Regions from separate parts of the Homo sapiens genome. Here region 2 is linked to region 1. Evidence: fine-mapped expression QTL. A gene starts in region 1. The other region holds a variant in brackets. All regions are shown on one strand. Distances are between the middles of the regions. Region 1 holds the start of PNKD (PNKD metallo-beta-lactamase domain containing). Region 2 overlaps CATIP (ciliogenesis associated TTC17 interacting protein).

What was found. PIP is the estimated chance that this variant, and not a neighbour inherited with it, causes the effect.
Region 2: its variant is the best candidate, but not a certain one, in a credible set for the expression of PNKD in whole blood (INTERVAL, PIP 0.60).

Annotation. Positions count from the first base shown.
Region 1 is chr2:218,267,797-218,273,164 of GRCh38, forward strand. PNKD (PNKD metallo-beta-lactamase domain containing) reads left to right here and starts at 2,723. Exons shown (of 10, transcript NM_015488.5): 1 at 2,723-2,806; 2 at 3,585-3,753. The coding sequence starts at 2,740. AAMP (angio associated migratory cell protein) reads right to left here and starts at 2,341. Exons shown (of 11, transcript NM_001087.5): 1 at 2,170-2,341; 2 at 1,586-1,738. The coding sequence starts at 2,290. RefSeq lists enhancers at 634-1,519, 2,088-2,407, 2,558-2,937, 2,968-3,017.
Region 2 is chr2:218,360,405-218,365,772 of GRCh38, forward strand. CATIP (ciliogenesis associated TTC17 interacting protein) reads left to right here. Exons shown (of 10, transcript NM_198559.2): 5 at 169-255; 6 at 2,331-2,498; 7 at 4,224-4,348. Among named protein-coding and RNA genes, the nearest start is that of CATIP-AS1, 4.8 kb to the right of the region's middle. The variant G/A (reference allele first, on the strand shown) is at 2,990.

The DNA.
Region 1 (5,368 bases):
AAGCTCCCTATTTGCCAGAGTAGATCCCCTCACTGTGTGACTCCCGTCACCACCCAACACCAATGCCATGGACAAGAGGTGGGGACAGGTGCAGGGCTTACAGTTGTCAGCATGGGATGCCACCGGGGTTGGGTACAGAGCGAGGAGAGCATCACGTTAAGGGTTTTTTGTTTTTTGTTTTTTGTTTTTTGAGACAGAGTCTTGCTCTGTCGCCCAGGCTGGAGTGCAGTGGCACAATCTCAGCTCACTGCAACCTCCACCTCCCAGGTTCAAGCAATTCTCCTGCCTCAGCCCCCTGAGTAGCTGGGATTACAGGCGCCCGCCACCACAACCAGCTAATTTTTGTATTTTTAGTAGAGATGGGGTTTCATCATGTTGGTCAGGCTGGTCTCGAACTCCTAACCTTCTGATCCACCCGCCTCGGCCTCCCAAAGTGCTGGGATTACAGGCATGAGCCACCGTGCCTGGCAACAGTTTCTTACTAAGAACTAGCACTTGAGAAAGTTATATAAAATATGCTCAAAAAGATATAATTATCTCTCATTTTATTTTATTTTTTTGAGATGGAATCTTGCTCTGTCGCCCAGGCCGAAGCGCAGTGGCACAATCTCAGCTCAATGCAACCTCTGCCTCCCAGGTTCAAGTGATTCTCCTTCCTCAGCCTCCGGAGTAGCTGGGATTACAGGCACATGCCACCACACCCAGCTAATTTTTTTTTTATTTTTAGTAGAGATGAGGTTTCACCATGTCGGCCAGGCTGGTCTTGAACTCCCGACCTCAGGTGATCCACCCGCCTTGGCCTTCCAAAGTGCTGTGATTACAGGCATGAGCCACCGCACCTGGCCAATTATCTCTAATTTTATACTCACTACTTTTATTAACTTTTATCAAAGATAACTTTTTTTTTTTTTTTTTTTTTGGAGACAGACTCTCATTCTGTTGCCCAGGCTGGAGTGCAATGGCGCAGTCTTGGTCCACTGCAACCTCCGCCTCCCGGGTTCAAGCAATTCTCCTGCCTCAACCTCCCGAGGAGCTGGGACTACAGGCGCCCGCTACCACGCCCAGCTAATTTTTGTATTTTTAGTAGAGACGGGGTTTCACCATATTGGCCAGGCTGGTCTGGAACTCCCGACCTTGTGATCCGCCTGCCTGGGCCTCCTAAAGTGCTGGGATTACAGGCGTGAGCCACCATGCCCAGCCAAATTTTTGTATTTTTAGTAGAGACTGGGTTTTGCCATGTTGGCCAGGCTGGTCTCGAACTCCTGACCTCAAGTGATCCACCTGCCTCAGCCTCCTAAAGTGCTGGGATTTCAGGAGTGAGCCACCACGCCCGGCCAAAGATAACTTTTTAAAAGAAAACTAAGAGGTTAATCAAGGTTAACTGGCAAAGTAGAGGGTGTCTCGACTGATGCCAGAAGCCAAGCAATCATCCATTCTGCCACACTTTCCCACCTGTGGGCTCCTCCAGCGCAAGGCCAGCATCTTGCCCATCTCTGTGTCCCCCATAACGTTCTGTCCATGGCTGATGTTTAATGCTTACACGCCCACCTAAACTGATTTGAGGTGGATCGCCTCAAAGACCTACCTGAGTGCAATGCAAAGGTGACCTCGCTATCGTCGGGGCCCTCCATGCTGCCGACCACCCCTTCCTGGGGTTCTAGAACCCAGCCCTCTTCGTTGCCCTCTTCCTCCTCTTCTTCCTCAAAGTCCACATCTTCCATCTCCTGGGCCAGGTCATCTGCTTTGGGGAGAGGGTTAGAAGATGGGGCTCGGGAGGCGGTAAGAGGTACGGAGAGAAGCATGAGGAGGCCTGAGGCTGGGGCGGGTCATGTGGCGAGAAGGGAAGGTGGAGTCAGACACACCGGGGTCCGCGGGGGCGCGCGGGACACAGGACGGGAGGCCACGGCTGGCCAGAGACCGTGCGGTAAGGGAGGGCCAAGGGGATGATGGGAAGGGGGTGTGTGAGGGGAAGGGCCAGAGGAGGCGTCAGGGAACCCCCACCCCAGCCAGGCCTGAGAACTAAGTGTGAGGGTGGGAGTGGGGGAGGAGGGGAAGAGGGATATCGGTAGGAATGACCAGTCGGGTGTGGAGGGGAGCGGGGAAAAGCAGGAGTCAGAGGCCAGGGGTGAGCGTCTCCTGTCCCATGGCCTGAGGAGCGGCAGTTCTCACCTGGGTCCGGCGGACCGGGATCAAGTTCTACCACCTCGATAATCTCTTCATCACCATGGAAGCTTAGGGTCTCCAGTGGGGGGGTGTCAGCAGCAGCCCCGCTTTCCGATTCGGACTCCATGCGGCGCAAGCGGCGGATCCACTTCTCTGGGCCCAAACGCCTCCCAGAGTCAGCTCTGCGCGACGACGCGGAACTCGAGCCCCTCCTCCCGGCAGGAAGTAGGCGTAGGCGACTCCCCAGCAGGAAGAGCGACGGCCGTTCGGCCAATAGCTACGAAGGTTGGCTGGCCGCCTCACCAATCACAGAGCGGCATTGGAAGATGGGGCCGGGGCGTGGCGGAGAGAACCCAAACTCCGCCCCACCTGACTCCGCCCCCAACTGGAGGGAAACAAGCGAGCGCGCGCGCCTCCGGGGTCTCCTGGGAAGAGTAGTTCTCCTGGGTCCGCTCTGCGGGCTTCTGGGAGATGTAGTTTCTGGTCTGTAGGCAGGACGGAAGGAGCGGGGGAGGCCCCTTACGCAAACTACAATTCCCGGCGGGGAGCGCGGTGAAGCGGGGGTGGGATCTGAACATGGCGGCGGTGGTAGCTGCTACGGCGCTGAAGGGCCGGGGGGCGAGAAATGCCCGCGTCCTCCGGGGTAAGGAGAGGGACCCCGGGGAGGGCAGGACTGCAGAAGATCCCTTTTCTTTCACGTCCAGCCCGACGATAGCAGGAGGTCAGGGCTCTTGGTTCCTCCCCACACTTTTCTGCAAGATCTTAGAGTCTGGGGGTGCAGAGATGCTCTTTAGAGGTCACCCAGTGCATCCCCCCGCCTTCGGGTTGCTCGACACCTCCGGGGTCTTGCTGCAAGAGGGAGCTCCTAGGAAGCCTGTTGGACTCCCGCGCTCCAGGTGTTTCACACTCACCGCAGTGCAGAGGAAAGAGCCCCGGGCTTCTGGAGGTTTGAGTTCCAGCCCCGGATAATTAGCAGTTTGACCTTGGGCAAAGCAGTTTTTCTCTCAGGGCTTCAGTTTCCTCTTCCGTACAGTGCAAGGGATGGAGTAGACTATCTTTAAGGTCCCTTCCAGTGCTAACATTTGCAGTTTCAAAACCTTTTCCCGGATTTCCTTCATACGTCTTATGTGAGTCCCACTGCAGTCCTTCCCATGCTGTCGTCTGAGGAAGAACAGCGAAGCTTTTCGTCCTGGCACCAGGGTGATGAGCCCGCAGTGACGTGGAAGTGGCTTCCAAAGGTGCCACCTCGGTGGCGATTTTCCCATTTCCCTTTGGATTCTCCTTGGCACTTCTTACTTCAGACTGCAGTCACTCCCCTTCCCCAGATCTCAGCCGCTCCTCCCAAGCCCTTACTGCCCCCCACCTCCCCGCTTGCTTTCTTCTCATCTCTTCTTACTGACCTTCCTTACCTCCATCCACAGGGATTCTCGCAGGAGCCACAGCTAACAAGGCTTCTCATAACAGGACCCGGGCCCTGCAAAGCCACAGCTCCCCAGAGGGCAAGGAGGAACCTGAACCCCTATCCCCGGAGCTGGAATACATTCCCAGAAAGAGGGGCAAGAACCCCATGAAAGCTGTGGGACTGGCCTGGTGAGTTTTAACCACCCCTTTGCCCACCAACGGGGCGTGGCTTGTAGGGGAGGGCAGGACTTAGAAACTTCTCCAAGTTTCAGGTGGCGAGCTGAATCCAAAGTTGTGGGAACAGAATTGTTGGGTTCGATTGGAATCTCAGAGGGGTGGGGCAGTGGAGGTGGGAAAGTATGTGGAATTGAGAAGACAGTGGGTTTACTGTGGAGTAAGCTGAGTTGATCTGATTCAGACTTGGGTCCCTGGCCTCATCCTCCCTTTTGGGAGCTTGGAGTGAGACCCAAGTTTAAGTAAGTAGTTCGTTGAGATCATGTGAGCTTGTACTAGTTGTATAGTAGTACTCAGAAGGCGTTATGAACATTGTGATTGGGCTCTGACTCTGACCTTAATACATATTATTGACCAATATTAAAGAGAAAGGAGGAAGAAATCAACATTTTTTTCTGCATGTGAGGTGTGCCAGTACTTTGCCATGTAATGTTTTAGTGTTTGAGATAAGTATTACATCCCCATTTCACAGAGGAAGGAACTGAGACTGAGCTAGGATTCTCACCTAGTCTGTGACTCCATGCTCTTTCCCCCATACCAAAGTGCCTCCCAAGCAGTGGTTACTTAGCTTAAGAGGGGAAAACTGGGAGGGTACCTTGGCCAAGTCTCAGAGAGGGAAAGCGTCAGGGCTGCCTGGAAAATCCTGCACAGGTGCTGTTGCAGGAATGCAGGGCTCGTGCTGAGGATCAGGCTCTAGGCGGGAGGAGGAAAGAGGCAGGCAGAGACCCAGCCACACTGGGCCTTTTGTGCCATGTTTGGACTTGGCCAGGAAGTGATGGAGTTACGGGGTTTTAAGCAGGGAAGTGACAGGATCTGATTTGTGTGGGTCCCTCCAGCAGCCAGCACAGAGGATGAATAGACTATAAGAGGTATTGCAGCATTCATGCAACTGATGAAGCTAGAATGACTCCCCCCAGCTCCTCTGGCTCAGGCTTGGCCCCTCCCCAAACCCCGTGCACATCTCCCCACCCGTAGGGCCATCGGCTTCCCTTGTGGTATCCTCCTCTTCATCCTCACCAAGCGGGAAGTGGACAAGGACCGTGTGAAGCAGATGAAGGCTCGGCAGAACATGCGGTTGTCCAACACGGGCGAGTATGAGAGCCAGAGGTTCAGGGCTTCCTCCCAGAGTGCCCCGTCCCCTGATGTTGGGTCTGGGGTGCAGACCTGAGGAGCGCTGCGACCCTCCTAGGCTATTGACTGTTAAGTCCTCAGGTTTGGCCCAGATTCCAGTTCGTGCCTCTGAGGTCCACCAGAGGGCGCATGAAGCCCAGGCTGTTGCCAAACCCTACCCTGCCCCACACCAAGGAGCCAGCCAAAGGCAAATAAAGTTATTGAGTGTTTAGTAGAAAGGAACCAGGTCTGGGTTTGTGAGTCCCTTGGGATGGGAGGGGCAGAGGGTGGGGCTGGTTACTCATGTGTGCTCCCTCTCACAGAGCTCAGTGTTCCCAGCTGGATGGTGGGGCAAACCCAGAGACTTAAGTGCAACCAGCCTAGGCCCCGGGCCCTCGGGACCAAGCCCTCAGAGCTGCCGGCCAGGAGGGTGGGGTCCCGCTCAGCCTTGAAACAATAA
Region 2 (5,368 bases), 93 kb after region 1:
CTCCCACAGTGCTAGGATTACAGGCGTGAGCCACTGTGCCCGGCCCGGCTGCTTTTTTTTTAAGTCACAATCTTTAAACCTCAGTTTTCTCATTAATGGAGAAGGGTCAGGTGACCTCTGGGGGACCCAGGGAGTCCCTGATCCTCCCCCGCATGCTCTGGCCCTCAGTTCCTCATCCTCCCCATGGAACGGAAGATGAGTTTGCTGAAGCAGGATGATCAGCTGGCTGTGACCAGAAGTATCAAGGAGGGTGAGGTAAGGATGAGAGCCAGATGGGAGTTGCACTACACACTGTGAACCCAGAATATCTGAGACAGGTCCAGATCAATTTAGAGAGTTTATTTTGCCAAGGTTAAGGACGCGCACATGACACAGCCTCAGGAGGTCCTGAGGAAATGGGCCCAAAGTGGTTGGGGCACAGCTTGTTTTTTTTTTTTTTTTTTGAGACAGAGTTTCACATTTGTTGCAGAGGCTGGAGTGCAATGACGTGATCTCGGCTCACTGCAACCGCCACCTCCCGGGTTCAAGTGATTCTCCTGCCTCAGCCTCCCGAGTAGCTGGGATTATGGGCATGCACCACCACGCCCGGCTAATTCTGTATTTTTAGTAGAGAGGGAGTTTCATCCCTGTTGGCCAGGCTGGTCTCAAACTCCCGACCTCAGGTGATCCGCCCGCCTCAGCCTCCCAAAGTGCTGGGATTACAGGCGTGAGCCACCACGCCCAGCCTACAGCTTGGTTTTATACATTTTAAGGAGACACGAAACATCAATCAACACGTGTAAGATGTACACTGGTTCACCAGACGTAAAAATACAAAAAATTAGCCAGGCGTGGTGGCAGGCGCCTGTAGTCCCAGCTACTCGGGAGGGTGAGGCAGGAGAACGGCGTGAACCCGGGAAGTGGAGCTTGCACTAAGCTGAGATCACGCCACTGCACTCCAGCCTGGGCGACAGAGCAAGACTCCGTCTCAAAAAAAAAAAAAGATGTACATTGGTTCATTGGAAAAGGCAGGACAACTCGAGGCAGGGAGGGGGCTTCCAAGTCATAGGTAGATAAGAGACATGCTTTTAAGTTTCCGATTAGCCTTTCACTGAATACACAATTTACATGCTATGGGGGTTAGAAAAGTAGTCACTTATGCCTTACTCTGGCTTAGTGAAACAATAGAGCAGAGAAAGCCATCAGATATGCATTTATCTCACGTGAGCAGAGGGATGACTTTGAGTTCTGTCTGTCCTTTGTCCACAAGGAATTTCCTTGTGGGCAAATAGTGAGGGAGTTATATAGCTTTTTTTTCTCTTAGTAGCTACCTTGTTTAGGAATAAAATGGGAGGCAGCTTTGCCTGAGGCAGTTCCCAGCTTGACTTCCCTTTGGCTTAGTGATTTGGGGTCCCAAGATTTATTTTTCTTTCACAATGTCCTCTTCAGAACTCTGAGCGGGGACCAGATTAGATGAAGCCAGGAGTCCAGACTAACGATTCATTCATTAGGCTGGGCGCGGTGGCTCACGCCTGTAATCCCAGCTCTCAGAAGCAAGAGGCAGGAGGATAGCTTGAGCCTAGGAGTTCGAGACTTGCCTGGGCAATATAGCGAGACCCCGTTCTCCAGAAAAAGGAAAAAAAAAAAAGACAAGGATTCATTCATTAAAAACCATATGACCGGCTGAAGGCCAGGCGTGTGGTGACTCACGCCTGTAATTTCAGCACTTTGGGAGGCCAAGGCGGGCGGATCACTTGAGGTCAGGAGTGGAGACCAGCCTGGCCAATATGGTGAAATCCCCTCTAATAAAAATACAAAAATTAGCTGGGCGTAGTGTCGTGAGCCTGTAATCCCAGCTACTCAGGAGGCTGAGGCAGGAAAGTCGCTTGAACCTGGGAGCTGGAGGTTGCAGTGAGCTGAGATCGCACCACTGCACTCCAGTCTGGGCAACAGAGCAAGACCCTGTCTCAAAAAAAAAAAAAAAAAAGGCTCACGCCTGTAATCCCAACACTTTGGGAGGCAGAGGGGGCCTATCACCTCAGGTCAGGAGTTCAAGACTAGCCTGGCCAACATGGTGAAATCCGGTCTCTACTAAAATTACAAAATTTAGCCAGGCATGGTAGCCTGTAATCCCTGCTACTTGAAAGGCTGAGGCAGGAGATCGCTTGAACCAAGGAGGCGGAGGTTGCAGTGAGCTGAGACCACGCCATTGCACTCCAGCCTGGGTGACAAAAAGCGAAACTCTGTCTCAAAAAAAAACAAAACCGTATGCCCAACACCTGGCTTGCCCACCCTCCTGTCCCCTGCCCCTTCCTGGTTCCAGGACCCTGACCCAGATCAGTTCTGAACAGGAAGTGAAGACTGGAGTGACTTCTTTCCCCTGGAGCTCAATCAAGGGCTTCATCTCAGAGGCTGCCAACCTGGTGCTGCTCAGGGTGATGGCCTGGCGGCGGATGGTGCCCAGCAATGCCCGCTTCCTGACCTTGGACACCGAGGGCAAACTCTGCTATTTGACCTATGTAAGGGGTCCCCTTGGGCAGGGGACTTGGCTTGGGAGCGAACTAGAAAAGGCGTGAAAAGCACTGAGATGGGGAACAGCTGTGGAGTAGAAAAGGGAGGCAGGTGGGGAGAAAACAGCACAGGTGGGAATGGGGCTTTCAAGGGCAGGAAAGCATGTTTGTCTGGGAGTGTGGGGCAGATGAATTGAGAGTGACTGAGAAGTGGGAACAGTTCAGAGAAGCAACCCTTCCGCACAGAAGTCAGTCCAGGAAAAATAAATATAGTGCAGGGCTGATTTAAAAAATACATCATTTTGGGCCAGGTGTGGTGGCTCACGCCTGTAATCCCAGCACTTTGGGAGGCCAAGGCGGGCCGATCACAAGGTCAGGAGATCTAGACCATCCTGGCTAACATGGTGAAACCCCGCCTCTACTAAAAATACAAAAAAAAAAAATCAGCGGGGCGTGGTGGCAGGCGCCTGTAGTCCCAGCTACTCAGGACGCTGAGGCAG[G/A]AGAATGGCGTGAACCCGGGAGGCAGAGCTTGCAGTGAGCCGAGATCGCGCCACTGCACTCCCGCCTGGGTGACAGAGCGAGACTCTGTCTCAAAAAAAAAAAACAAAAAAAAAAAAACGTCATTTTGGCCAGGCGCAGTGATTCATGCCTGTAATCCCAGCACTTTGGGAGGCCAAGGTGGGCAGATCACTTGAAGTTAGGAGGTCAAGATCAGCCTGGCCAACATGGTGAAACCCTGTCTCTACTACAAATACAAAAATTATTAGCTGCGTGTGGTGGCAAGTGCCTGTAATCCCAGCTACTCGGGAGGCTGAGGCAGGAGAAGCATCACTTGAACCCAGGAGGCGGAGGTTGCAGTGAGCTGAGATCGCACAACTGCACTCCAGCCTGGGCAACAGAGGGAGACTCTGTCTCAAAAAAATAAATAAATAAAAATAAATCATTTTTTAACTTTAGGAAGTGTAACATGTCCAACTTTACTGAAATATTCCTTTATTATTTCTTAACCCCAAAGGGTGTTCCGTTTTTGTTTTGTTTTTTGTTTTTAACTAAAATTTCATAATCAGCATGCCTAGGACTTCCTGCAATCAGTGATTTTAAAGCCATGCCACTGAACACACAATTTCCAGTGAGACACTTTGGGGGCTGATTTGTGTTTCTTTGACCATCTTTGTAAATTACATTCCAGGCTTGTCTATCAAAACACACCAAGCAGCAATGCATTTGACATGAACAAGCACAATCCATTCCCCTCCGTGTTCTTTGAAACATGTGTTTAACATTAGCACTTTTTTCTCCATAGCTGCAGCTACAACAGGGGTTTAAGTTTTAATCACAACAGGGACAGCCTGCCAGCAACAGCACAGGTCTGAGGTGGCCACAAATCTGTCTGGTCTCACACCTCTGAGCCTCACTTTACCTCCACCCACTGGCCCTAGTAGCTCATCCTACCTCTCCGCTCCCACACCCCCCCGCATACCGCTTCTCATCCCTGTAACAGAATTTGCCAACTAGAAGCACCTGGTCAGCGAGATGACATGGGAGGGGTCAGGGCAAGGGCAACCTGGAGCTAGCTCCCTATGAGGGGTCGCCAACTCAGCTTGGAGGTTTGGAGATGCAATATTAAATGTCTTGAGGTTGTTATGAGATGGAGAAAAGGCTAAGGTAAGATGATGGGGAGCCCTTGGCGGGCATCCACCTTACCTCCCACCCCCCAATTTTGGCTGTTGCCAGCAAAACCTGGGCTTCCAGACCATCCAGGTAGACCATCAGCAGGCTGAAGTCTTCATCGTGGAGCAGACTGTCCACGCGGAGGAGGGCATCCCCATGTCCTGCCAGTACTACCTGCTCTCCGATGGGTGAGCTGCTGATGGTGGGCCCAGAGGGGTGGTGCTGAGCTTGTAGGTGCTCAAGGAGACCGGCTGCTTCTGGGGATAGCACCAGGAAGAACTGGCATTGAGATAGGAGTGTCCCTCCGCTTTATCCATATCATTCACTCTTTCTTCATTTATTTGCTCGTCCTCTTAACCCTCACAGTGCCTCCCAAACCTTCTCACTGCACACCACAGGCCTGGGGTGTAGCTAGTGCAGCCACCACTGTGTAAGGGATAATACTGAAAAACACCAAGGTCTGAATGACTGCACACTTGATGAAATCACTGTGCTGGAAGAATTGCCTGTGGCAGGCTGCCGTGCAGTCTCCAGCAAAGCACTGGCTCCAAATCATAAGAAAATTCAGGGCTGGGCGTGGTGGCTCACACCTGTAATCCCAGCACTTTGGGAGGCTGAGGCGGGCGGATCATGAGGTCAGGAAATTGAGACCATCCTGGCTGACACGGTGAAACCCCATCTCTACTAAAAATACAAAAAATTAGCCAAGTGTGGTCGTGGGCGCCTGTAGTCCCAGCTACTCTGGAGGCTGAGGCAGGAGGATGGCGTGAACCCAGGAGGCAGAGCTTGCAGTGAGCCGAGATCGCGCCACTGCACTCCAGCCTGGGTGACAGCAAGACTCCGTCTCAAAAAAAAAAAAGAAAGAAAAAGAAAATTCAGGTGGAAGAAAGAGTTTCTTTCTGTTTTTTTGTTTTGTTTTGTTTTTTTGAGACAGACTCCAGTCGAGTTTATTTCTTAAAATTTCAGAATAGATATTCACATAATCACTACACTGGGGAAAAGGTAATCAAAACATTGTTGGCTTTATCTCATAACTTAGTATGTTTTCGGTTTTGGTGCGATCATAGCCCACTGCAGCCTCCAACTCCTGGGCTCAAGCAATCCACCTGCTTCAGCCTTCCTAGTAGCTGGGACTACAGGTATGCACCACAGCTCCAGGCCAACCTTTTTATTTTGAATGCCGCATAGCAGGAGATTCCATAATTTTT